7 linked regions of the Homo sapiens genome follow. The protein of the gene in region 1 purifies or fractionates together with the protein of each later gene. This does not show direct contact. Each region holds a gene or a part of one and is shown in the gene's direction. Other genes may lie near its edges. The genes, in order: FGFR1OP2, PPP2CA, PPP2CB, SLMAP, TOX4, STRN4 and MOB4.

The links.
Region 2: the proteins of FGFR1OP2 (region 1) and PPP2CA purify together in Homo sapiens (affinity purification with mass spectrometry; 4 studies listed by BioGRID and IntAct, with this or other methods). This does not show direct contact.
Region 3: the proteins of FGFR1OP2 (region 1) and PPP2CB purify together in Homo sapiens (affinity purification with mass spectrometry; 4 studies listed by BioGRID and IntAct, with this or other methods). This does not show direct contact.
Region 4: the proteins of FGFR1OP2 (region 1) and SLMAP purify together in Homo sapiens (affinity purification with mass spectrometry; 3 studies listed by BioGRID and IntAct, with this or other methods). This does not show direct contact.
Region 5: the proteins of FGFR1OP2 (region 1) and TOX4 fractionate together in Homo sapiens (co-fractionation; one large-scale study listed by BioGRID). This does not show direct contact.
Region 6: the proteins of FGFR1OP2 (region 1) and STRN4 purify together in Homo sapiens (affinity purification with mass spectrometry; 2 studies listed by BioGRID and IntAct, with this or other methods). This does not show direct contact.
Region 7: the proteins of FGFR1OP2 (region 1) and MOB4 purify together in Homo sapiens (affinity purification with mass spectrometry; 3 studies listed by BioGRID and IntAct, with this or other methods). This does not show direct contact.

The regions. Positions count from the first base shown.
Region 1 is NC_000012.12:26,958,970-26,962,469, forward strand, and holds part of FGFR1OP2 (FGFR1 oncogene partner 2), read left to right. Parts: intron 1-1,545; coding exon 1,546-1,659; coding exon of another isoform or gene 1,660-1,668; exon of another isoform or gene 1,669-1,782; intron 1,783-3,500. UniProt on the Homo sapiens protein: May be involved in wound healing pathway.
Region 2 is NC_000005.10:134,198,574-134,202,073, reverse strand, and holds part of PPP2CA (serine/threonine-protein phosphatase 2A catalytic subunit alpha isoform), read left to right. Parts: intron 1-52; coding exon 53-226; intron 227-999; coding exon 1,000-1,089; intron 1,090-1,566; exon of another isoform or gene 1,567-1,577; coding exon 1,578-1,739; intron 1,740-2,869; coding exon 2,870-2,988; intron 2,989-3,500. UniProt on the Homo sapiens protein: Catalytic subunit of protein phosphatase 2A (PP2A), a serine/threonine phosphatase involved in the regulation of a wide variety of enzymes, signal transduction pathways, and cellular events.
Region 3 is NC_000008.11:30,795,819-30,799,318, reverse strand, and holds part of PPP2CB (serine/threonine-protein phosphatase 2A catalytic subunit beta isoform), read left to right. Parts: intron 1-1,564; coding exon 1,565-1,738; intron 1,739-3,500.
Region 4 is NC_000003.12:57,906,309-57,909,808, forward strand, and holds part of SLMAP (sarcolemmal membrane-associated protein), read left to right. Parts: intron 1-1,575; coding exon 1,576-1,698; intron 1,699-2,746; coding exon of another isoform or gene 2,747-2,767; coding exon 2,768-2,842; intron 2,843-3,500. UniProt on the Homo sapiens protein: Associates with the striatin-interacting phosphatase and kinase (STRIPAK) core complex, forming the extended (SIKE1:SLMAP)STRIPAK complex.
Region 5 is NC_000014.9:21,483,695-21,487,194, forward strand, and holds part of TOX4 (TOX high mobility group box family member 4), read left to right. Parts: intron 1-3,500. UniProt on the Homo sapiens protein: Transcription factor that modulates cell fate reprogramming from the somatic state to the pluripotent and neuronal fate. In liver, controls the expression of hormone-regulated gluconeogenic genes such as G6PC1 and PCK1.
Region 6 is NC_000019.10:46,736,451-46,739,950, reverse strand, and holds part of STRN4 (striatin-4), read left to right. Parts: intron 1-564; exon of another isoform or gene 565-641; intron 642-1,062; coding exon 1,063-1,166; intron 1,167-1,713; coding exon 1,714-1,787; intron 1,788-3,049; coding exon 3,050-3,128; intron 3,129-3,448; coding exon of another isoform or gene 3,449-3,493; intron 3,494-3,500. UniProt on the Homo sapiens protein: Calmodulin-binding scaffolding protein which is the center of the striatin-interacting phosphatase and kinase (STRIPAK) complexes.
Region 7 is NC_000002.12:197,540,066-197,543,565, forward strand, and holds part of MOB4 (MOB-like protein phocein), read left to right. Parts: intron 1-45; coding exon 46-88; intron 89-285; coding exon 286-372; intron 373-3,500. Other genes in the region: HSPE1-MOB4 protein, read left to right, coding at 46-88, 286-372.

The DNA.
Region 1 (3,500 bases):
AAGGACATATTTTCATATTTATCTATTATTGAAACACATTTTAGATTCTTTAAAATACTTCTTCCATTTTGGTGCTTGTACGTGTTTTTAACTTATTAGTAATTAATTCTATTAGAATTAAATACCTATCAAATAGCTCTTTATATGCCTTTATTATATTAGAAAACCTAATGATAGGTACCTCTTGTGTCAACCAGTAAAATAATAAATTAAATTAAAAATTTGTGTTTAATGTTTTCTAATTATGCTATTCATCTCCTAATCAAATGGCAATCCAGGGATGTTTAAGTGGTGATCTTTTGAATACAAAATTTAACTATTGTTAATGAGACCATTCTAAAATCATTTAAATTTAAAGGTATAATAATAACTATAGTAACTAAGACTTTTTAAAGGCACTAAAAGGAGTTGACTTAATATTATTTGTAAGATAAATATAATCTTGAGAATTTCTAAAAGGTTTGTATGTTTTATAACCTAAAAATAAAATGTTAAAGATCTAAAGCGAAGAATACCATTACAAAAAAAGTGCTTAGAATAGGATAACTATAGCTTGCAGGTCCCATCTGGTAGCAACTATGACAGAAGCAAATGTTTCCTAAAATATATTAGATTTTACTATTCACCAGAGCTGGTTTATTAATTAGTAAGGTTAAACATTTCCTAAGATAGCTGTAAGCCATCCTTTTTTATTATGTAGATTGAATTCTTCATCTAAGTTCAGATGATCCTTGCCTCCCATAAAATGACTATTCAGTTATTTGTTATTAATTTTCACTAATACATATTAATGTTTGTGATTTTGATTTTTCCCAAAAAGGAGACACTTCGACTTAATTAAACAAACATTAATACTGGCACTGGGTTAGTTATGGGAAATAATAAGATGAATGTACAAGCTTGCAGTATAGTGGGAGATACAGACACAAACATAACAATCTACTATAAGGTAGGGCGTGATGAATCCCAAAGTAGATGAATTGTTACTGGAACGCTAGAGGGAACAATATTAACTGTCATAAGGAAAATCTGGAAAGGTAACAAGGAAGGGAAGAAAGTCTGTCTCAGTCCAGCCTTGAATTAATTATGGGCAGGTAGGTAAACAAGCAGAAGTGGGTGGGTGGGCAGAGAAACTTGTATAATAAAAGCACAAAAAGTATGGTATTGTAGGGTGTGTTTAGGTACTAGTGCTCTGATATGCCTAAACACAAAAGTAATTTTACAACACATTTAGAGCTAAGAAACAGAGTTACACATAACAGCATTTTGGATTGGAGTAAGAGATCCTTTTGAGACTGTTATAATACAGAACTTTGCCCTTAACTAGAAGTTTTTGAGCACATACTTAAAAAATCAGTAGAAAGTTTGAGAGCTCATTTTTACCCAAATACTAATTTTCATGTTATTTTTGAACAGATGCCTTTTTGGAAATCTTAAAAAAGCAAACATTTCAAACAGTTGGCTAACACGCATGAACTAACACTCATTCAGTTTTTAAATTACGGATGATATCCGTATTAACATTATAATGACTCTATACTACAGATTGACATGGTACATCGTAACAAGTCCGAAGGATTCTTCCTTGATGCATCTCGACACATCCTTGAAGCACCTCAACATGGACTGGAGAGAAGGCACTTGGAAGCAAATCAGAATGTACACTAAATAAACAGTCAACTTTTGGGGTGTGGATGGAAGGGGGGTCCATTTTAAAAGTGCTTTTACATTGAATTTCCCTCCCAGATTAGATCAGCAAATAAATGAAATTTATTAAAAGAATGTTGTGTCTTTAATAGCCATGCTGTTCAGTGTAGAAACTTTAAATCTCTCATTAATTTTCTGTGTATTGTATCATGTACAGCCTGTTAGATATTTGCAGGTTTTATAGGTTATTCAGTCCAACGCTTTATTTATTTGCTCTTGTTAGTTGTTGCTGTGAAACAGTCATTTCCTTTCTGGACATCAAAGATATTTTCTTGGCATTAATTTTAAACTGATTTCATAAGGTCAAAGTATTAAATGTTTTAATTCAGATTGTGGATAGTTTGTAGTCCTTTGATTTTGCAAATGAAATTAAAATGCCTTTGTTTAGATGTTAGGATTAAGTATAGTAGTGCTCTCTCCATTGTGTCTTAATTTTTTTTTAACTCACTTGTGGCAGGTCTTTATTGAATAAAGGAGGAATAAACCTAGACAGGGAGTTAGAAATGAAAGACATTTCAAGACAGTTCAAGGGTTATGTTGGTGACACTTCTTGTCTTCCAGACAGTTTTGAAAGCACAGATCTTGCCTCTTGTGCTTGTTAAAAAATCTGTGATACTTCTCTGAAGATTTTATAATTAAATAAGTGAACCATTACCATGACCTTTTATAAAAGTGCTGCCCTATTTGAAGTATTGGGTTTTTTCTCATGATGAGCTTTGTTAGACTTGGTACTGAAAAAATCAGTAGTTTTTTTCCTTCTATTTTAAAGGCAAAGAAATGCTTGCTTCAGCTAGGCATGGTGGCTCATGCCTGTAATTGGGAGGCTGAGGTGGGTGGATCACCTGACGTCAGGAATTGGAGACCAGCCTGGCCAACATGGTGAAACCCCATCTCTACTAAAAATACAAAAAGTTAGCCAGGCGTGATAGCGGGTGCCTGTAATCCCAGCTGCTCGGGAGGCTAAAGCAAGAGAATTGTTTGAACCTGGGAGTGGGAGGTTGCAGTGAGCCGAGGTCGTGCCATTGCACTCCAGCCTGGCCAACAAGAGCGAGACTCTGTCTAAAAAAAAAGAAATGCTTGCTTTCTGTGTAGTTTTTTAACTTAGGTCAGTGCCATAGGACTGACCAAATCATAAATTGAGGATGCTGTTGGTATTCAAAGTTTTTACTCATTACCCTTACTCAGTTTGCAGCTGCAATGATCTGTACTTAACCTGCTTTTACATATTATGCTTCCTTGACAATGGGAGGAATTTTAATGGTTAACTTGCAGAATATGACAGATACTTGTCTTAATATCATTCTTCCTACCATAATCTAATTCAAAACTATCCAGTAGAACTTTCTGAAATGATTGGAATGTTTTTTATCTGTGCTGTCCAGTGTGGAAGCCAGTAGCCACATGTGGCTGTTGAGCACTTGCAGTGTCACTAATGCGTTTGAGGGACTGAATTGTTAATTTTTAAAAATGTATTGATTTTAATTAAGTTTAACATTGTTTTGGACAGCACAGATTAGCCTTTTAGAGTACCTTCTTGCTGAGTACTAGCAGTGTATAGGTTTCCCCATGAAAAGGACCTACATTTTTGTTGGTTAAGAGGTTATTAAATGTGCTTTGCCAAAGATACTACCTTGTCATTTCTTCCAGCTTATTAGTTCCGTGGGTTTCTTGGAGTACTGTTAAATCCTTTTTACAAATATATATATACACAACTACTGAAGAGACTGTTTATTTGGGGAGTTATTCACTTTTATATTTAAGTCTTAGGCTTAATATGATAAAATACCTCTCAG
Region 2 (3,500 bases), on another chromosome or scaffold:
CATTGGTTTTTGAAAGAGCTAGTTGTTTATGTTTTGCATTTTATTGTTTTAGGTTCGTTACCGTGAACGCATCACCATTCTTCGAGGGAATCATGAGAGCAGACAGATCACACAAGTTTATGGTTTCTATGATGAATGTTTAAGAAAATATGGAAATGCAAATGTTTGGAAATATTTTACAGATCTTTTTGACTATCTTCCTCTCACTGCCTTGGTGGATGGGCAGGTATGTGGATCTAAAACTCATTGCTGATTATTTCAGAGAATCTGCTTTCTTTAGTGTTCAGGTGCTTATGACTCTTTCCACTCTTAACACCCCTTTGGGGATATTTTTTAATAGATATTGATAGCATTCATTCAAACTTAAAAAAAATTTAATTTGACAAATGTGTCCAACTTTTTTAAGTGCATTATTCTTTATATCAGGCACTGAACTGTATGGTGGGATCACAGGGGTGGGTGATGTAGCCCATTTACCCTCTCAGACTGTTTTTGGACAAGTCTGGGAGATGTAAGGAGCTAATTATTGGCCTAGGTAGATGTGCACACAAAAGAACTTACAATAAAATTTTATGAGTATGAAGATACTAGTCTCTGGCAAAGGGCAGGAGTGATATCCAAGAAGTTTTCTCAAAGGAGCTGTTTGAAGTGGAGTCTGGTTGTGACAGCGATGGTCTATTAGGAAGAACAGGAGTGTACTCAATAGTTCAGAGTGGGCTGGAGCAAAGATGAACCCTGCAAAGTCAAGTCTCATTCAGGCAGAGCACAGAAACACCAGAGGGGCCAAGTGATGGGGGTGCCCAGCTCATTTTTTAAAATTTTTGTAGAGACACAGGGTCTTGCTGTGTTGCTCAGGTTGGTCTCAAACTCCTGGCCTCAAGCAGCCCTCCTGCCTCAGCTTCCCAAAGTGCTGGGGTTACAGGCATGAGCCACTGTGCCCAGCCAAGAATGTTTACAAATTTTTTAGGTGAGGTTAACCTTTTAAACCACTCTTTTCAGATCTTCTGTCTACATGGTGGTCTCTCGCCATCTATAGATACACTGGATCATATCAGAGCACTTGATCGCCTACAAGAAGTTCCCCATGAGGTATGACTTTTATTTGATAAAATTCTTTCAGAAAACTTATTAGGGAGTGGAGAAGTTTAATTGTAAGTTCATTAGATGTATTCTCTCATATAATTCTCAAAAACAACTTGAGGTGTGAGCACTCTTGTCTGCCCTGTTGTTCAAAAGAAGCTGACATTAAGAAACCTGCCAAGATCACAACAGCTGTGAAGCTGGGCTTATTAGGACCTGGGTTGTCTGTCTTAGACTCTGAAATTTGCATAATATAGGCAGATTAATTAGGGCATGTTGCTGCTGGGTCCCATGGATGTCAGCTGTGTCTCATAAAGTCTGCTGGAAAATACATCTTATTTGATGCAGATGTTTGACTTCAACTGCACAGTCTATTAGCATTGTCCACAAACATCACTCAAAAAGGGTGGCTTAGGGTGCTGCTTCTGATGAATTACTCAAATAATGTGTTAACCATGTTTGTAAAAGGCATTTTATAACTTGAAGTTATTTTTTAGGGTCCAATGTGTGACTTGCTGTGGTCAGATCCAGATGACCGTGGTGGTTGGGGTATATCTCCTCGAGGAGCTGGTTACACCTTTGGGCAAGATATTTCTGAGACATTTAATCATGCCAATGGCCTCACGTTGGTGTCTAGAGCTCACCAGCTAGTGATGGAGGTATGCTGTGTTCTCTGAAATATGACTTGTTTTTTTAGTAAACTTAAGGAAAGAAGATATTAGGGAGTTTTAAATTAATGACATTTGTGAGAAATTCCATCTATTCCTTCTGATGAGTTTATCATTATAGCCTGAGCCTTTTCAGTAGATGCACACTACTAGAATTAAAAGCTCAAGCTTTTGATTACAATGAATCCATTAACATGTTTTCAGAGAAATCTGAATGACTAGGAAGTACTTGAGATTTAAGAGTGGGAAAGTAAGATATAGGGAGTTGGTGTGCATGTATGATATTTTATGATCCCAATGTTATTTCGTATATTTAATGTATGTATGTAGGAGAGACTGGAAAGAAATACACGAAAATGTTTTAAGTGGTCCTTTGGATGCTAGGATTACAGGTGATTTGAAAGAAGGGAAAGAGGCAAAGGTTCTTGACATGGCACACTGATTAGAATATTTTTAAAATAAGGTCCTAATTAGATTAATACTAGTACAACTCTGTGGTTATCAATAAAATCTGACTTTGCTAAAGGTAAAGAAATTGTGAACAATACTAAACAAAAAGTAACAAAAGTAGCTCATGCATTCAGGTGGATGGACTTTGAGGAAATGAGGCTGGAGATCCTAGAGGCATATTGCATTTGTTCCTGGGCAGTGACCAACTTAACAGGCCTTTACCTGTGACTGACAAAATTGGTAAGGTTCTGGTCTCCAGGATTAAGTATCTACTTCTCTAGGGAATGGCCACTTAAATACTTATTCTTAAATCATGTTTTAAGGCCACTGCAAGAGAAGAGGCTAATGAGACATTGTCATTTACAGCAAGGCAGATACATGAGAAGTATTTCATTCTTTGGTGGTTGCTGCTGTTTGTTAAAGCCTTTTTTTTTTTAAAGTACTAAAAAAAAAACAAGTTTTGTAATTAGGGGGAAAATAAATACATGTGTACCTTACAGGTTGTATAAAGTACAGGAGATTATTAAGTCATCCAGAAAAAAAGCATTAACATTTCTTAAGCCCCTTTGGCAGGGGTGGGAATGAGTAGAGATTTTTTTCTCTCTTGAGTGAAGTAACATTTAGTTGAATTGAGGGAGTAAAGTAAGATTTTTGTCTCCTTTTCCTTGCAGGGATATAACTGGTGCCATGACCGGAATGTAGTAACGATTTTCAGTGCTCCAAACTATTGTTATCGTTGTGGTAACCAAGCTGCAATCATGGAACTTGACGATACTCTAAAATACTCTTTGTAAGTAATTCTACCTGAACATTTTCTTGCATTACTGAATATGTAGGGTTTTGGTTTATTTATTTTGAGAGAGAGGGTGTCACTATATTGCCCAGTCTTGTCTCGAACTCCTAGGCTGAAGTGATCCTTTCACCTTGGCCTCCTAGAGTGTTGGGGTTACAAGTATAAGATACAGTGCCCAGCCTGAATACATAGTTTAAATGTGAGGTTTAAGAGTTTAAGGGGGCCAGGCGCGGTGGCTCATGCCTGTAATCCCAGTACTTTGGAAGGCTCGGGTGGATCACCTGAGATCAGGAGTTCGAGACAAGCCTGACCAACATGGTGAAACCCCTTCTCTACTAAAAATACAAAAATTAGCCCAGCATGGTGGCGCCTGCCTGTAATCCCAGCTACTCAGGAGGCTGAGGCAGGAGAATGGCATGAATCCGGGAGGCAGAGGTTGCAGTGAGCCAAGATCGCGCCACTGCGTTCCAGCCTGGGCAACAGAGCGAGACTTCGTCTCAAAAAAGTGT
Region 3 (3,500 bases), on another chromosome or scaffold:
TTTGACTTTATCACTTATCCGTTATATTGAGTCAGTAGACAAGTCTTTTTAAATCCTTGCTTTGAAAAGTCTGTTGTTCCTGTCTCTTTCTATTTTCACACAGTTTATCACTTCACAATTCGATTGTTACAATAGCTTAGTAACTAATATTTCTGCCTCCAAGATCTGATCCCCCCCAAATCCACCTGGCATACGCTGGCCGATGAAATCTCTTATTTAACCCTTTTATATTGTTACTTCCTGTTGATTGCCTGTTGCCTATAGAATCAAATTCAAACTCCTTGCCTGGCCTTCTATAGTCTAGTCTGAATTTTTGCCTGCCAGCGGTTGGTAGCATAAACTCTGGCTCAAATCAAAGTTTCTTCTTATTCAGTGCTCTGGACTCTGTTTATTTCCATAGTCGATTTCCCCCACGAGGTTATCCTGTCCCTGATTTCTTACCTTTCTGCCAAGACTCAGCTCAGGTCTCACTTCCTCCATGTAACCTTCAACCATTTTAGCCTTATTCCTTCTGCTCTAAATTACTATGAGGAAACTTATTCTCCCAGCCCTTATTTATGCTGCAAAAGTGGCTTATTGCCTTCTATTACTTATTATTTTACATATGTCCTTAGTGAGGTTAGTCCCTCAACAGCAGAAGCCATATATTACATGGTCATGGGTCACTTAACTGCAGGCATACATTCTGAGAAATGTGCCATTAGGTGATTTTGTCATCTTTGGAACTTACACAAACCTAGGTGGTATAGCCTACTGCACACAAAGGCTGTAATGGTATAGTCTCTTGCTCCAGCCAACATCGTACATGTAATCTGTTAACAAAAATGCTGCCCAGCACATGACTGTACTTGTGTAGATCTGGCATCTGGCTTTATAGCACCAAACTTACGTTAGACACATAACGGATGCTTAGTAAAATATGTATGAATTGAAGTACATACTTGCAGCTTTTAGCTTAATTTGCAGAATCCAGTGCTTTTTCGTATTTCTTATCAGATGCATTCCTAACTAAATAGTCGCTTATGTTTTTTAATAGAAAGGAAACTATTAATACATTTGAAATCTTGCCCAGTTTTGTCAAGGGCCTGTTTTTGTGTTATTATTGGCAAATCCAATCTTCCTGTGGGAAATAAAAATTGAAAAGGGAAGAAGTTAATCTGTAGAGTTTGTCTCAGCTTCAAACCTGTGATTTTCACTACTCATTCAGCAGTAAGAAGTCATAGTGTTCTAGAAAGATTTAGGAAAGTAGTAATAATTTGATGATGAAGATAATAGAAGCAAAGTATCAGATACAAGTTTATTATAGTAATATAAGTATTAGTTAAAGGTTCTGATGAGGGTTGTCGAAACCTGATGAAAAAGGATGATTATAATAAACACGTCAAATGTTAACCAGTAAGACCTGGTTATGAATAAGCAAGTTTTTTATTTTGAAACTGAAATTAACATTTAATATACTGGTGGCCAAAAGCGCCGTGTTTAAAAATGGGTCAGAGACTGGTGTACTTCACATGACACTAGTAAAAATGTGATTTTACTATGGGTTTTACTCCTTTTCTTCCAGGTGCGTTATCCAGAACGCATTACAATATTGAGAGGAAATCACGAAAGCCGACAAATTACCCAAGTATATGGCTTTTATGATGAATGTCTGCGAAAGTATGGGAATGCCAACGTTTGGAAATATTTTACAGATCTCTTTGATTATCTTCCACTTACAGCTTTAGTAGATGGACAGGTATGTATATGTGTGCTTACATCTTGGGAGGAGGTAAATGGAAGCAGAGATTGACTATTGGTAAGCTGGGGTCTAGATTCATATGACCTGTGTTTCTGCATCTCCTCGGCCTTTTCCTCCTCCTTCCCTTATACTTAAAATTTCAAAGCAGGGAAGTGGATAAGTTTCACATACATTTGGACCAGCAAATTTTCCTGTTGTTCTCAGATATGTATGTAAATCTTTTAACCAAAGAATATGCTGTGCTTTTTAAGATATCGATAAACATTATAAATAAATGTTTAAGACACTGATGTATAGTACTAGCAAAGCAAGATGTTATTTAAAACTATCTCTGCATATACATGCAGTGTCTGCTGGTTACCATGAATAACTTTTCATTTCTATTTTCATGGTAACTGCAAATGTTATATTGTGTATTACACCTTCCCTGAGAAGTGAATGCTTGGCTGGGCACAGTGGCTAGTACTTTGGGAGGCCAAGGCAAGAGGACCGCTTGAGTTCAGGGGTTCAAGACCAGCCTGGGCAATGTAGTAAGACCCTGTCTCTACAAAAAAAAAAATTTAAAAATTAGCTAGGCATAGTGGCGCGTGCTTGTGGTCTAGCTACTCAGGAAGCTAGAGGTGAGAGGATCTCTTCAGCCCAGGAAGTTAAGGCTGCAGTGAGCCGTGATCCAGCCTGGGCTTCAGCCTGGGCAACAGCAAAACCCCATCTCAAAGAACAAAAAAAGAAAATAGAAGCAAATGCTATTTCTGCATTTGCTGTAACAAGTAGTGCAGACATGTCATGAAACATTCAAAAGTATAAGAAGAAATTATGCAAATTTCCTATTTCAATTTCTAGAGATAATCACTGTAAGCATGAACTGATTTAAATTTAAATATAAAACAAAAGCCGGGCAAGTTGGCTCCTACCTGTAATCCCAGCACTTTAGGAGGCCAAGGTGGGTGGATCACCTGAGGTAGGGAGTTCGAGACCAGCCTGGCCAACATGGTGAAACCCCATCTCTACTAAAAATACAAAAATTAGCCGGGGATGGCATTGCATGCCTGTAGTCCCAGTCCCAGCTACTTGAGAGGCTGAGGCAGGAGAATCACTTGAACCTGAGAGAGACAGAGGTTGCAGTGAGCCAAGATCGTATCACGGCACTCCAGCTTGGGTGACAAAGTGAGACTCCATCTCAAAAAATAAAATAAATAAATATAAAACATATAATAAAACTCCATAATTCTTAAATTATGAAAGCCCAGAGTTGTCAAGAATGTAATAAATTCTCTCTTAGACTGCTCGTGGGAATATAATTTGGTTATAACTTTCCCTGTGTAATCCTGACAGTCTTTTTTCTCAGCCATGATTTTGGACACTGCCGTGATTAATTTGAAAGGACGATACTTTGCCTGGACTTGTTAAAAGAAAATGTGAATTTAAAAGATGTTAAATTTTAATTAAGGTTGTTTTTAATTGTTTTGAAGCAACATAGTCTTCATTAATAATAAAATTGCTGGACAGAATGATTTTTAAAAGACAGCCTATCAGTTTTAATGAAGTATCTAGTTTTTAAAATGGGTGCGTTAGTAGAGCTTTTATATATTTTTCCCTTCCTCCTTCCTTCCTTTCTTTCTGAAAAGTTACTAGAAAAGAAATAATAGTGAACAAAACTGATCTAGAAGAAAAGATGGAAGGCACATAAAACACTAGGAATGAAATAAGGCATAATTATAACTATGCAGGAGCTCGTGTATCACAAGAACAGGTGCAGCTT
Region 4 (3,500 bases), on another chromosome or scaffold:
TCTTTTTTTTTTTTTTTTTTTTTTAGAGACACAGTCACTCTCTGTCGCCCAGGCTGGAGTGCAGTGGCGCGATCTTGGCTCATTGCCACCTCTGCCTCCCAGGTTCAAGCAATTCTCGTGCCTCAGCCTCCTGAGTAGCTGGGATTACAGGCGCGCACCACCACGCCCAGCTAATTTTTAGTATTTTTAGTAGAGACGGGGTTTCCACATGTTGCCCAGGCTGGTCTCAAACTCCTGACCTCAAGTGATCTGCCTGCCTCAGCCTCCCAGAGTGCTAGGATTACAGGCATGAACCACCGCGCCTAGGCCAGAATACAATTTTTCTAGAGAGAAAAATAGGATATAATCTATGAATATGAAAAAAAAATATATATATATATATATATATATATAATTTCCAAAACCTATTGTAATTGTATTGTGAAAGTTATTCTTAGCTCTTTTTTGATGAATTGAAGTTATTATGCTGAGGTACTTATAAACCAAGGTGATACTCAAATAGAATTCATTAGAACAATATGGCTTACCTGATGATATATTTATTTCAGGCAGTGTTCAGTAGCAGAAGGTTTTAAAAAATTAAAAAGCAGAATGATTGGAGAGGAAGGAGTTTAGGGGAAGGGGCATATTTGAAATAGAATGCTGGATTTAATTTATTTCGGTAAAACCACTTAGGTTACATCATTTAATATATTCAGCAGATTTTTGTTGTTGTTGCGGTTTTTTTTTTTCTTTTTGATACAGAGTCTCACTCTGTTGCCCAGGCTGGAGCGCAGTGGCGCGATCTCGGCTCACTGCAACGTCTGCCTCTTGTGTTCAAGCAGTTCTCCTGCCTCAGCCTCCCAAGTAGCTGGGACTACTGGCACCTGCCACCACGCCTGGCTAATTTTTTGTGTTTTTAGTAGAGACGGGGTTTCACCGTATTAGCCAGGATGGTCTCGATCTCCTGACCTCGTGATCCGCCTGCCTCAGCCTCCCAAAGTGCTGGGATTACAGGCATGAGCCACCACGCCCAGCTCAGATATTTGTTATATGTGCGTGTTGGGGAAATGATGATGACAAAGTAGGCTCAGTAGAGCTTTCAGCCTAGTTTTTATTTTGTGTTCCACAACTAGGGTAATTGTGCTAAAATTTAGCTGTTACTTGAAGAAAAGTTTCTTTTTGTTTTCCATATCCAGTTAAGTTCCAAGTGAAATTTTTCTGACTGGTTATCAAGAAATTTCAAAATTGATGAAGAAGTATAGCATTTTGCTCATCTCACTGAATTTCAAGTCTTAATAAGCAATGAGTTATAATCTGTCACTGTCTGTTTATTTTGATGCTAGAATTGTGAATATATAATTTATGTTAATATATTTTTATAATGTCATCACCATGATTACTAATATATATAACTGTATTTGTATTTTCTCCCAACTACTAAAATGCTTACTATAATTTGCTTCTAAGTTTTATTTAACTCAGTTGTTCTATGTTGTTTATGCATGTGCAAACATGAGAGAGATTACCAGTCTTTTATTGTAGATTATAGTGTGATACTAACTCTTGCTTTTAAAATAAACATGTTTTTGTCAGATGACTTGCAGGGTGCACAGTCAGAAATTGAGGCAAAGCAAGAAATACAGCATCTTCGAAAGGAATTGATCGAAGCCCAGGAGCTAGCTAGAACAAGTAAACAAAAATGCTTTGAACTTCAAGGTGAGATCAAGATTACTTTGGTTCTTTAGGGATGTGTGGAGGCAGCACAATATAATTGGGTGGCCCCAAACTTGGAGTCCGGAGGCATGTTCCAGATTCACAACTTTATGAGATATGTGATCTTGGTATATTTACTTGACCTCTCTAAACTTGTGTTTCAGGTCAGTAAAATGAGGAGAGTTACAGTTGCTCTACCTTCACACTGTTGATGTGAAAATCAAGTAAGATCTTTACTAACTGAAAGATCTTAATAGTTAATTGCATATTAAGTACAACAGAAGGAAAACTCAAATTTCTAAATTTTTATTATGCCTAATGTTAGCTAATGTCCTGGCCACATTCTTTTCTAGTAGCTCACTTATCTATAGGTCATAAGCCAGTGGAGTCTGTGCAGTTCCCTAGAGCTTACATTTCTGTATCATTCATAGTAACTACCTGGTTGCAGACAATTAGTATCTCAAAGAGTCTTAAAATGAGAAAGGGAATGACTTCTGGAGCCCTCATGTTCTCCAAGATGGCCTTCCTGCCTAGTAGGAAGATTTACATCCCAGGAGGGAACTAGGAACTTCTTGTTACTACTTCTTTCCTTTCCTAATTCTCAAAGAAATTAGAATTGGTATTCACTTAACTTGAACCTTTTGGAGGATCCAGGCTAATATATTAAATTACAATGAAAAAATATTTGGTAAATAGCAATTATTTAGTTTAGTGTTTACTATGTGCTTGACAGTAAATATAAGAATTTTAAGTCTTTTTAAAAAATTAAGTTCAAAATGCTGATTAACAATTATCAAGACTGTTTCTCATGTTAAGAAAAGCACATATTGTCTTGGTGATACCAGGTCCAGAAAACTCCACTACTCAGTTGAATAGATTTATTACTTACTACAGTTCTGTGCTCCTAAAATCTTTAAACTAACTGCTAATACTGATAATACTTACTGCCTAACTTTTGTTTCTTTCAATAATCTTTTAGGAGAGAATTTTAAAAGAAATTTTCAGCTGCTCAACTCTGAGTACTTTCATTAATTCACAAAACTATTAATAGATACTGTGTTTTTACTTTTAGCTCTTTTGGAAGAAGAAAGAAAAGCCTATCGAAATCAAGTTGAGGAATCCACTAAACAAATACAGGTTCTTCAAGGTATGGAAGACCCCAAGGCTCTTTGAGATTGTTATTGTGTGTTTGTTTTTAGTGATTCAAAAGGAATGGAGGCCAGGCGCAGTGGCTCATGCCTGCAATCCCAGCATTTGGGAGGCCGAGAAGGGTGGATCTCCTGAGGTCAGGAATTCGAGAGCAGTGTGGCCAACATGGTGAACCCCTGTCTCCACTAAAAATACAAAAATTAGCTGGGCATGGTGGTGCATGCCTGTAATCCCAGCTTCTCGGGAGGCTGAGGCAGGAGAATTGCTTGAACCTGGGAGGTGGAGGTTTCAGTGAGCTGGGATTGCACCACTGCACTCCAGCCTGGGTGACAGAGCAAGACTCCATCTCAGAAAAAAAAAAAAAAATGAAATGGAAAGTAAGAAGGCAGAGAGTCCCCATTTTTCATGGCTTTGATTCTCTAGAACCTCACATTTCAACACGGCTCTTGGTGGAGCTTTATTTATTTATTTGTTTTTGAGACAGAGTTTCGCTCTTGTTGCCCAGGCTGGAGTACAATGGCGCGGTCTCACCTTACTGCAACCTCCGCCTCCCAGGTTCAAGCAATTCTCCTGCCTCAGCCTCCTGAGTAGCTGGGATTACAGGCATGCGCCACCACACCCAGCTAATTTTGTATTTTTAGTAGAGATGGGGTTTC
Region 5 (3,500 bases), on another chromosome or scaffold:
CAAAACAACATACATAAATACATGATTTGTGTACTACTGAGAAAAGTTCAGTTCTTGGGGAAAGTTTCAGTTTTTCCCATCAAGAACTGCGTGGTATTTTTTGTTATTTGTGTGTGTGTGTGTGCGCGTGTGAGACAGAGTCTTGCTCTGTCATCCAGGCTGGAGTGCAGTGATGTGATCTTGGCTCACTGCAGCCTTCAACTCCTGGGTTCAAGCGATTCTCGTGCCTCAGCCACCTGGGTAGCTGGGATTACAGACGCACACCACCACACCCAGCTAATTTTTGTATTTTTAGTAGAGATGGGGTTTTCCATGTTGGCCAGGCTGGTCCCGAACTCCCGACTTTTCAAGTGATCCACCCACCTTGGCTTCCCAAAGTACTGGGATTACAGGTGTGAGCCACCACTACCAGCTGAGAACTGTGTGTTCTTATGCTCCGTGTGCTACTTATATCTCAGACAACGACCAGATTTTTTACCATACCAAGTAAAATAGTAAGGAGAAGGGAAACTGTACATATATCTTTTTGTCTTTTAGGAAACTTTTACAAATGTGATTCAGAGATTGGGCATTTCACAGGCACACTTTTTTCTCCCTAGTTTCTGCTAGCTGGAAATTTTCTTTCTAGCAATGTCTTTTTTTTTTTTTTTTTTTTTTTTTTTTTTTTTTTTTGAGACAGAGTCTTGCTCTGTCACCCGGGCTGGAGTGCAGTGGCACAATCTCGGCTCACTGCAGCCTCTGCCTCCTGGATTCAAGTGATTCTCCTGCCTCAGCCTCCTGATGTAGATGGCATTACAGGCACCTGCCACCACACCTGGCTAATTTTTGTATTTTTAGTAGAGATGGATTTTCGCCATGTTGGCCAGGCTGGTCTCGAACTCTTGACCTCAGGTGGTCCACCCACCTCGGCCTCCCAAAGTGCTGAGATTATAGGCATGAGCCACGGCACCCGGCCTTTATTTTCTTTCTTTTTCTTTTTTTTTAGACATGGTCTTGGTCTGTCGCCCAGGCAGGATTGCAGTGGTGCAGTCTTGACTCACTGTGACCTCTGACTCCTGAGTTCAAGTGATCCTCGTGCCTCAGCCTCTCGAGTAGCTAGGATTATAGGTGTGTGCCACCATGCCTGACTAATTTTTTGTTCTTTTGGTAGAGACGGGTTTCACTGTGTTGGCCAGGCTGGTCTCGAACTCCTGGCCTCGTGTGATCCGCCCACCTGGGCCTCCCGAAGTGCTGGGATTACAGGCGTGAGCCACTGCTCCCAGCCTAATGTCTTCATTAAACCAGAATTAGAGGCTGGGCGCTGTGGCTCATGCCTGTAATCCCAACAGTTTGGGAGGTCAAGGCAGGGTGATGGCTTGAGCCCAGGGGTTCAAGACCAGTCTGGGCAATATGGCCAGACCCAATCTCTACAAAAAATGCAAAAATTAGCCTGGCGTCATGGCCAGGCGTGGTGGCTCACGCCTGTGATCTCAGCACTTTGGGAGGCCAAGGAGGGCGGATCACCTGAGGTCGGGAGTTCAAGACCAGCCTGACCAACATGGAGAAACCCCGTCTCTACTAAAAATACAAAATTAGCCGGGCATGGTGGCACATGTCTGTAATCCCAGCTACTAGGGAGGCTGAGGCAGGAGAATCACTTGAACCTGGGAGGCGGAGGTTGCGGTGAGCTGAGATCACGCCATTGCACTCCAGCCTGGGCAACAAGAGTGAAACTCTGTCTCAAAAATAAAATAATAATAAAAATTAGCCTGGCATGGTGGTGTGCACCTGTAGTTACTTGGGAACCTGAGGTGGGAGAATCACTTGAACCCAGGAGGCGGAGGTTGCAGTGAGCAATATCACGCCACTGCATTTTATCATGGGTGACAAAGGAGACTCTATCTCAAAAAAAAAAAAAACTGCCAGGTGCGGTGGCCCATGCCTGTAATCCCAGCACTTTGGGAGGCTGAGGCGGGTGGATCACGAGGTCAAGAGATCGAGGCCAACATGGTGAAACCCCGTCTCTATTAAAAAACACAAAAATTAGCTGGGCGTGGTGGCACACACCTGTAGTCCTAGCTACTCTGGAGGCTGAGGCAGGAGAACTGCTTGAACCCGGGAGGTGGAGGTTGTAGTGAGCCAAGATCGCGCCACTGCACTCCAGCCTGGGCCACGGAGCGAGACTCTGTCTCAAAAAAAAGAAAAAAAAAAAAAGACAGAAATGGTCATAATAGAAGAACATTTCAGGATCTAGAGGAACCTTGAGGTCTGTAAGCCCAACACTTTGGAGGCCGAGGCAGTAGGATTACTTGAGTCCAGGAGTTCGAGACTAGCCTGGGCAACACAGGGAGAGCTCGTCTCCACAAAAAATTTTAAAAATTAGCTGGGTGTGGTGGCACATACCTGTAGTCCCAGCTACTCGGGAGGCTGGGGCTGGAGGCTTGCTTGAGCCCAGGAGTTCCAGATCAGCTTGGGTGACAGGGCAAGACCCCATCTCAAAAAAAAAGAAAAGGAACCTTTAGGAACTCTATTTAAAGAATGCATTGTTCAATTATGAAAAAAAAAAATGTTGGTACCTATTGAATTTGATCTGAATCAGTTTATATTTACTATGCTATGTGTTAGATTGATAGAATTTAAAGTTTCTAAAATTCCAATTATCTGTTATAATTGGTTGGGGTGGGGGTAATCATTATTAGGATATTATCATTCATAACAATGGTTAATGATGGTGATTAAGCCATTATATGTATCAGGCAATGTGCTAAGATTTTATGCATGAAATCTCACTTATCCTCATAATAACCATATAAGGGGATTACCATTATAATTCCCATTTTACAGATGAAGAAAACTTGTTCAAGGTCTTGTACCCAGGTCTCTCTGACAGCAGTCTCTTGCTATTATTTATAAATGTCTATTGCTGTAAATGCCACCATTTAGATTTTAGTGTCAAAACAGAACCATAGCAGTTCACATCTTAATCAGACATTGTCTGTTAGCTGCATGAGTGGTGGCCTCATTCAGAAAAGAAAGAATGTGTTATTATTGACCTAGTTGGACTCAGAGGAAGAGATTGGGTCTTTAGCCAACTGGAGTAATCCTTTTCCTCTCTTAGAGAGAAGCTTGGTCAGAGCAAGACTAGCATTTTTGGCATTGTTGAGGTTTTCTGAAAATCCTATACTAATGGGAATCTTTATTTGTTGTTAACATTATAATTTCTAAAGTGGAGAAGAAGTAGGAAACTCTGCAAATATTTTAGAGGGGGTAAAGTTCCCATGACAGTACATTTTAGCATCTGTTTGAAAGGAACCTAAAACAACAAAGTATAATTGGCTGGCTGACAGCGAATTTCTGTGACCTAACAGTTTAGATGTAATAATTGTGAAATAACTGCTCTATTAGAATCTTTAGAGAGAGATTTCAAGAATCATAGTAAACAGGTTATAAAGGCTATGTCCTAAGTAATGGTACTGAAAGAATTTTTCATTAGAACCATAGGCATAATTTAAGACAAAAGA
Region 6 (3,500 bases), on another chromosome or scaffold:
AAGGAACTGGGCCCATTTCGAAGTTGCGAACAATGGACAGGGAGAATAAAAATGATGAAAGAAGTAGAAGCTGGCATTTGTTAGCCTTTATTCTGTGCCAGGCCTTGACTGAGCAGAACCTAGCACATGAGGGGAGGGCACTCTTGTGACTCTCATTTTCTAGAGGGGCAAATGGAGGCTCAGAGAAGGCTGATGACCTGCGTAAGATCATGTAGCGAGTAAGTGTCTAAGTTGGGCCTGGGCTCTGGCTGTTCTGGGCTGGAACGGTGGGGTGCTTGGGGAGAAGCCAGAGATGAGCCTTGGGCCAGGGCTTTGGCAGAAGAGCTTCTGGACCATGGTCAGGGGCCAGGATCCTGCCTGGAAGGCAGTGGGCCCAGTGTCTCCAAATGACCTGTTGACAGACTGGAGCAGACGGGGCAGCTCAAGCCAGCAGACGGTGTGAAGTGCTTGGCAGGAACCCGGGGTCGTGTCTGTGGCACATTTCTCTCACACCCTGGGCGGAATGCAGTGGGACGGCTGGTCCCCACAGCGGGCTTGGCTTGTAAAGCTTTTCTATTGGAGCAGGAGCCGAGCCGAGCCACCCACTCTTGTCCCTAAGCTCCAGAAGTAGCTTCCCACGCCTCCCAGAGACAGATGCTCTGGTAAGAATAGTGGGACGCCACCTCCACCAGCAGCCTTAGGGACAGCACCTGCCAGAGGGCGTCAGGGGTAGTCCAGGGCGGTGAATGCCCACCCTCCTCTCCACTGCCATCCCTGACCCGACTTCCCCCCAAAGGCAGCCACCAGGTGAGGCCCAGGCTGGCCCCATTGTTATCTCAGGGGTTAAGGGCTCCCCTTCGGCCCTCGTTGTGGGTGACGTGGCAGGGGGCCCTGGAAACAGATCCATCCTGTCCTCTCAGTGCTCCCTGAACCCTGGCTTGGGATCTTTGTGCCTGAGGAAGTGGCTGCTGCCCATTACTGTGGGGTGACTGTGGGCTGGCACTATACCTGGGTGAGTGATAGACACACCGGCATTGAGCCTGAGCCCCATTATCTCCCTTTGCCTCCTGTCTGCCCTCCCAGGCTCAGGTGGCCTTCCTTCAGGGAGAGAGGAAAGGGCAGGAGAATCTAAAGACGGACCTGGTGCGGCGGATCAAGATGCTAGAGTATGCGCTGAAGCAGGAAAGGTGAGCCTTCATCCTGCCCTGGGCCTGCCTTCTGGGTCCGTCTCAAGCACAGTGTCAGGAGGCCACCAGCCACGCCTCCTTCCAGCTAAGGGAGATTTGGGGTCGACATTCTTTTCCATCATTCCAGTACCATAAGATTCTAGGGGAGAAACAGGACAGAGTAGGTGGGATTTGGGTTAGACACCAGGAACGATATTCACGATGCTAGTGGCCCACTGTGCGCCAAATATCGTATAGTCCTTACCTCCGTTATCCCTTATACCTTCCAATAGCCTAACGGGTATTGTTAGCCCTGTTTCAGATAAGGAACTGGGGTTTCAAGGGCTGATGGTTTCCTCAAGGACCCCTGAGAGCAACCTAGGTTGCCTGACTCCAGGGAGTGGTTTCTTCCACCAGGCCAGGGGTGTGGGGGGATGCTTCAGCCTCAGTAGTAGACGAGCTGGGGGAGGCCCTGTGATTTGGGGTTTGGGATTCTGGATTCCTTAGGTAACTACTGACCCTGTCTACTCTCCCGCATCTCTTATTCATTAATCATTTGCTCTTTTAGGGCCAAATATCATAAACTGAAGTTTGGGACAGACCTGAACCAGGGGGAGAAGAAAGCAGATGTGTCAGAACAAGGTACCCACCCTCTGATGCTCGCACTGTCGGCACCCTCCCGCAGAAGCTGAGTGTTCTGGAGAAGCAGGAAGATGGGGTGCCTCTTTCTCACTTTGCTCCTTAGAAGGCAGAATCGGCCCCGGGGCTGGGGAGGGGCGGAATCTCACTCTCAGAGCCCTCCCTATGGGCTGCCAGGTCCCGTGCTGGACCCTGGGGGCCAGTCCCGCTTGGGTCCCCCTGTGCAACAGAGGCAGACACACGAGCAGCTCACGGGATCCCTTTGCGAGGAGTGGGCGCCAGGGCTATTTATAGAGTGCTGGGGACGGTGCGGGAAAGCCGGGGAAGACGTCACTGAGGAGGTGGCGTTTGAACAGGGTTGCCGTTCAATCGTTCATCCAAAAAAGACTTTATTTGTAGGGTACAGGCTTTGTATCACAGATCAGGAATACAGCAGAGAGCACGGGAGACATGGTCTCTACCCTCTGGTCCCTTAGAGTCTAAGCTCCTTGAAAGATGACTCCGTTCCCCAGCAGGAGAGTCAGGGGAGAGAGCACAGATACAGAGACGCACGCTGAAAGGGTTAGGGGACAGGGAGTCGGTCAGTGTGCCTGGGCAAACAGTGTAGGGCAGAGGATGTGGGAGGGCGGGCTGGGTGAGGGGGAAGCTTGGCCGAGGCAAGCTGAGAAGACCTTGTGTGCTCAGCTGATAGTGATGGTCATTACCTGCTGCCAGCTCCTCTCACTAGAACGGAAGTTCCACAAGGGCAGGTCTTTGTTTACCCATGTAGCCCAGGCCCCTGGCCAGGCACAGCGTAGATGCCCAGGAAAGACTTGAATAAAATACTAAGCAAATTATCTCATTGCATCCTCTCAGCACTCCCAAGAGGGAGATGCTGTTATCATTAAGCTCATTTCTCAGAGGACGAAACTGACACGGCTTACACTAACTCAGGGTCACACAGCTGGGATGGGGCAGAGCTGGGCTTGAACCCAGTCGGCCCTTCTCTCAGAACCAGGCCAGCTTTCTGGTTTTGAGATAACACCCTTATCTTGTCGGGGGCCAGTTTGGGGAACCACCAGTCAGGAGACCTAGAGATGAGGAACGCTTCAAGGAGGAGGAATCCCCGAGTAAGGGAAGAGAGCAGGGTTCCAACACTCAGGAAGTGATGCCACAGGACCTGCGACAGTGACCGATTTGGGTTGGAGGGGTGAGGAAGATGGAGGAGGTGATGGGTAGGTGGCAGTGGCCTGACTTAAGACAGCCTCCGTTCTCTCACCCGCCAGTCTCCAATGGCCCCGTGGAATCGGTCACCCTGGAGAACAGCCCGTTGGTGTGGAAGGAGGGGCGGCAGCTTCTCCGACAGTGAGTGTGCTCGGGGAGGGGGGCTGGGGACACGTGACACGTTTGGCTTGAGAGATAAGTCCAAAGACTCCACAGTCCTTTTCCGTCCCCACTGGGGATGCTGAACTATCAGGATCTTAGCCAGCCATGGCTGGAATGGCTTTCACCCTGTGGGCGGAGCCTGGCCTGGGGAGAGGGAGGGAAACCCGCTGCAGGAGGCAGACGTGGGGACACCCCTGTTGGAATGTGTCCCTGAATGCCTCTGTGGCTTTTTTTTTTTTTTTTTTTTTTGTCTCAGTGGCCATAGGAGCCCTGTGTGGCTTTTTTTTTTTTTTTTTTAGATACCTTGTGAAGATTTATGAAGCATGGCTTTTTATTTCCCAAGGGTAATAT
Region 7 (3,500 bases), on another chromosome or scaffold:
GTGAAGAATAGATATGACTTTTTATTTATGTATTTGCATTTTCAGGCAGTTCTGCCTTGAGCTAAATGGACTTGCTGTCAAACTTCAGGTAATATTTTCTTTAAGTCAAAGTTATAATTGAAAGTTCTGATTTTTTTTTCTCTGTTTTTATAACTTAATGTGCTTACAAAAACGTATCCACATTTCTAACTTTCTTCTAGAATTTATTATGGAAATATAGTAACCTAAATGATAAGCTTTTTCATTATTATTTTACATATTAAGAAATATAATTATTTTTAACAGAGTGAATGCCATCCAGATACTTGCACTCAAATGACAGCAACTGAACAATGGATTTTTCTTTGTGCAGCTCATAAAACTCCAAAAGAGGTGAGGATTTATGAAATAGAGTAACTAATAAAATTATTATAGCCTAAATCTCTCTCAAGACAATGTTAGACAAGTTTTTAGGGTTTTTAGTTCACTGTTCATTTTGCTATTTCATTTTGAGTTGCTTGTTGTGAAGTTGTTACTGCAGTGCTATTTTAGGATTTCTTATGATAAGCATCATTTTTCATAATTGGGCAATTACATGGGCTAGAACTCACTTCATGATCCACTGGCTATTACGGATTAACATCTGTCACATTGTGCTGATATCTACTGTGTAATGATTGAGATACGCCTGTTTAGGTTTTTGTTCAGATTATTTCTTTTGATAGGAAGAACTATTGATTACTCTGATGCCTAGTTTAAGTAGAAATGTTACTTTTGAGCTTTTAAATATTCATGTTGTTTTTCTCCTTATTTAGTTTTTGTCAAGGTAAGACTATAGGCAGTAGCAGTTTTTTGTTTTGCTCTTTTTTTTTTTTGAGATGGATTCTTACTCCGTTGTCCAGGCTGGAGTGCAGTGGTATGATCTCGGTTCGCTGCAACCTCTGTCTCCGGATTCAGGAGATTCTCATGCATCAACCTCCCAAGTGGCTGAGATTACAGGCATGCGCTATCATGCCGGGCTAATTTTTATATTTTTAGTAGAGATGGGGTTTTGCTATATTGGCAAGCCTGGTCTCAAACTCCTGACCTCAAGTAATCTGCCCACCTCAGTCTCCCAAAGTGCTGGGATTACAGGTGTGAACCACTGTGCCTGGCCTACTGTACTTTTTCTTATTTAAAAAATTTCTTCATATCATCTGATACCCAGTATACTTTTCCTTAGTTGTCTCCAAAATGGTCTTTACATCTGGGTTGTTTATGCATTGCTTTTCCCTTAATCTGTATTCCCATTTAATCTGTTATAATTACTTTTTACTTGACACTGACTCACTGGGGATATTGGGTTAGGCCAATTCTGTAGAATCATAGACCTTGAAGTGGTCATTATATTGATAGACTTCTAAGGCTTGAAGACAAGTGAGGCCCTAGTTGCAAAATCAATATCTGATGTTTTTTGTTTCAAAAAGGACAAATGCTCCAAAATAAGGAGTATTTGATACCTAAGAGAATAGTACTTATTTGGAAGACTGGTTTCATTCAGGATGTCACATTTTTATGTTAATTAATTGAAGCAGTATTAAGATTGTATCTGTCGGCCGGGCGCGGTGGCTCACGCCTGTAATCCCAGCACTTTGGGAGGCCGAGGCGGGCGGATCACGAGGTCAGGAGATCGAGACCATCCCGGCTAAAACGGTGAAACCCCGTCTCTATTAAAAATACAAAAAATTAGCCGGGCGTAGTGGCGGGCGCCTGTAGTCCCAGCTACTTGGGAGGCTGAGGCAGGAGAATGGCGTGAACCCAGGAGGCGGAGCTTGCAGTGAGCCGAGATCCCGCCACTGCACTCCAGCCTGGGCGACAGAGCGAGACTCCGTCTCAAAAAAAATAAAAAATAAAAAAAATAAAAAGATTGTATCTGTCTACATCTGGGAAAATCCACATAGTGGTTTCATTGATAATTCACTGAAGTTGGCTACTTAACGTAGTGAATGATGTGATTATTGCAATTAGGAAACTGAATCAAGAAGGCTGAATCAAGGCTAGTTTTGTTTTGGCAAATAGTAATGATGTATTATTCTTTCTTTAGAGTGGAAGTGATATCCAGTTTGTGATGTGTTATGACTCTTAAATATACTGTCATTCTCATATCCACTTCTTTCTTGATTAATATTAAATGACAGGATAGTCATTAGCATTAAGACCTGTAAATTGAGTCTTAGAATTGCAGCATTGCTTGCTGAAGTCCAGATCTGTTGAACTGGCCATGTGTCAAGGGAGGGTGATAGTAGGATTTCCAAGTGGTAGTTATATTGAGTGGAGTTACTGTAAAAATACAAACAAAAGAACAATTTGAAAGGACACTTTCTGAACTGTTTTTGAATAACTGCTTAGTCAGGAAACTATAGGAACTGACAAACTAAGCTAAGAAAATTGCTCTCATGGATTAAAATCACTAGGGAGATTCTGAAGTGGGAGCAGCAGAATACTTAGCACCAATAATCATTTATTCAGTATCCTTGAGAATTAAAGAGAGGCATTCAGCATATAGAGTAAATTATACAAATAGTGCTTCTAGGCGACAAACATTATAACTTACTGTCTACAAGCCCTCACAGTCACATGCTGATTGTGATCACTTGCAGTAGCATTATGATTATATATTTGGAAAAATATAATACATAAAAATTTGTAAACACCATTACATAGTATTTTGTAACCTGCTATATTTTGCCATTTTTTGCTGTTATAACTGTTACAGAGTAGGAATAGTTACCTGAGAATTAACTGGGGGAAGGTGAAGGGAAGGCAGCTAAAAACAATGCAAAATGTCATCCAAATTAAAAATTCAGAAACCAGTTAAAGGTCTAAAGATACAGTGATGTGGTAACCCATGAGCCCCATGTAGCTGTGTAGCACTTGAAATGTGGGTAGTCAAAATTGAAATATGCTGTAAACACAAAATAAATACTGGATTTCGAAGACAGTAACGCCTGTAATCCCAGCACTTTGGGAGGCCGAGGCAGGTGGGTCACCTGAGGTCAGGAGTTCGAGACCAGCCTAGCCAACATGGTGAAACCCCATCTCTACTAAAAATACAAAAAATTAGCTGAGTGTGATGGGTGTGCACATGTAGTCCCAGCTACTAGGGAGGCTGAGGTGGGAGAATCACCTGAGCCCAAGGACTCAAGGTTGAAGTAAGCAAAGATCACACCACTACACTCCAGCCTATGTGACAGAGAGAGACCATGTCTCAAAAAAAGATTCAGAAATGGCCAGTAAGCACATGAAAAGATGCTCAACATTAGTTATTAAGGCACATCTCAAAACCACAGACAGTTGGTGCGAGGGTTGTGCGTTATTGTTATGCTGATTAACATTGTCTCCTCCACAACCATGCTTGATAAGGGAAAAAAAAAAACCACCGTGAGAATGGAGAAACAAAATGTAGCATGGACATACAATGAAATATTATAAAACCATGAAAGGGAATGAAGTTCTGATACATGCTACAACACAGATGAACC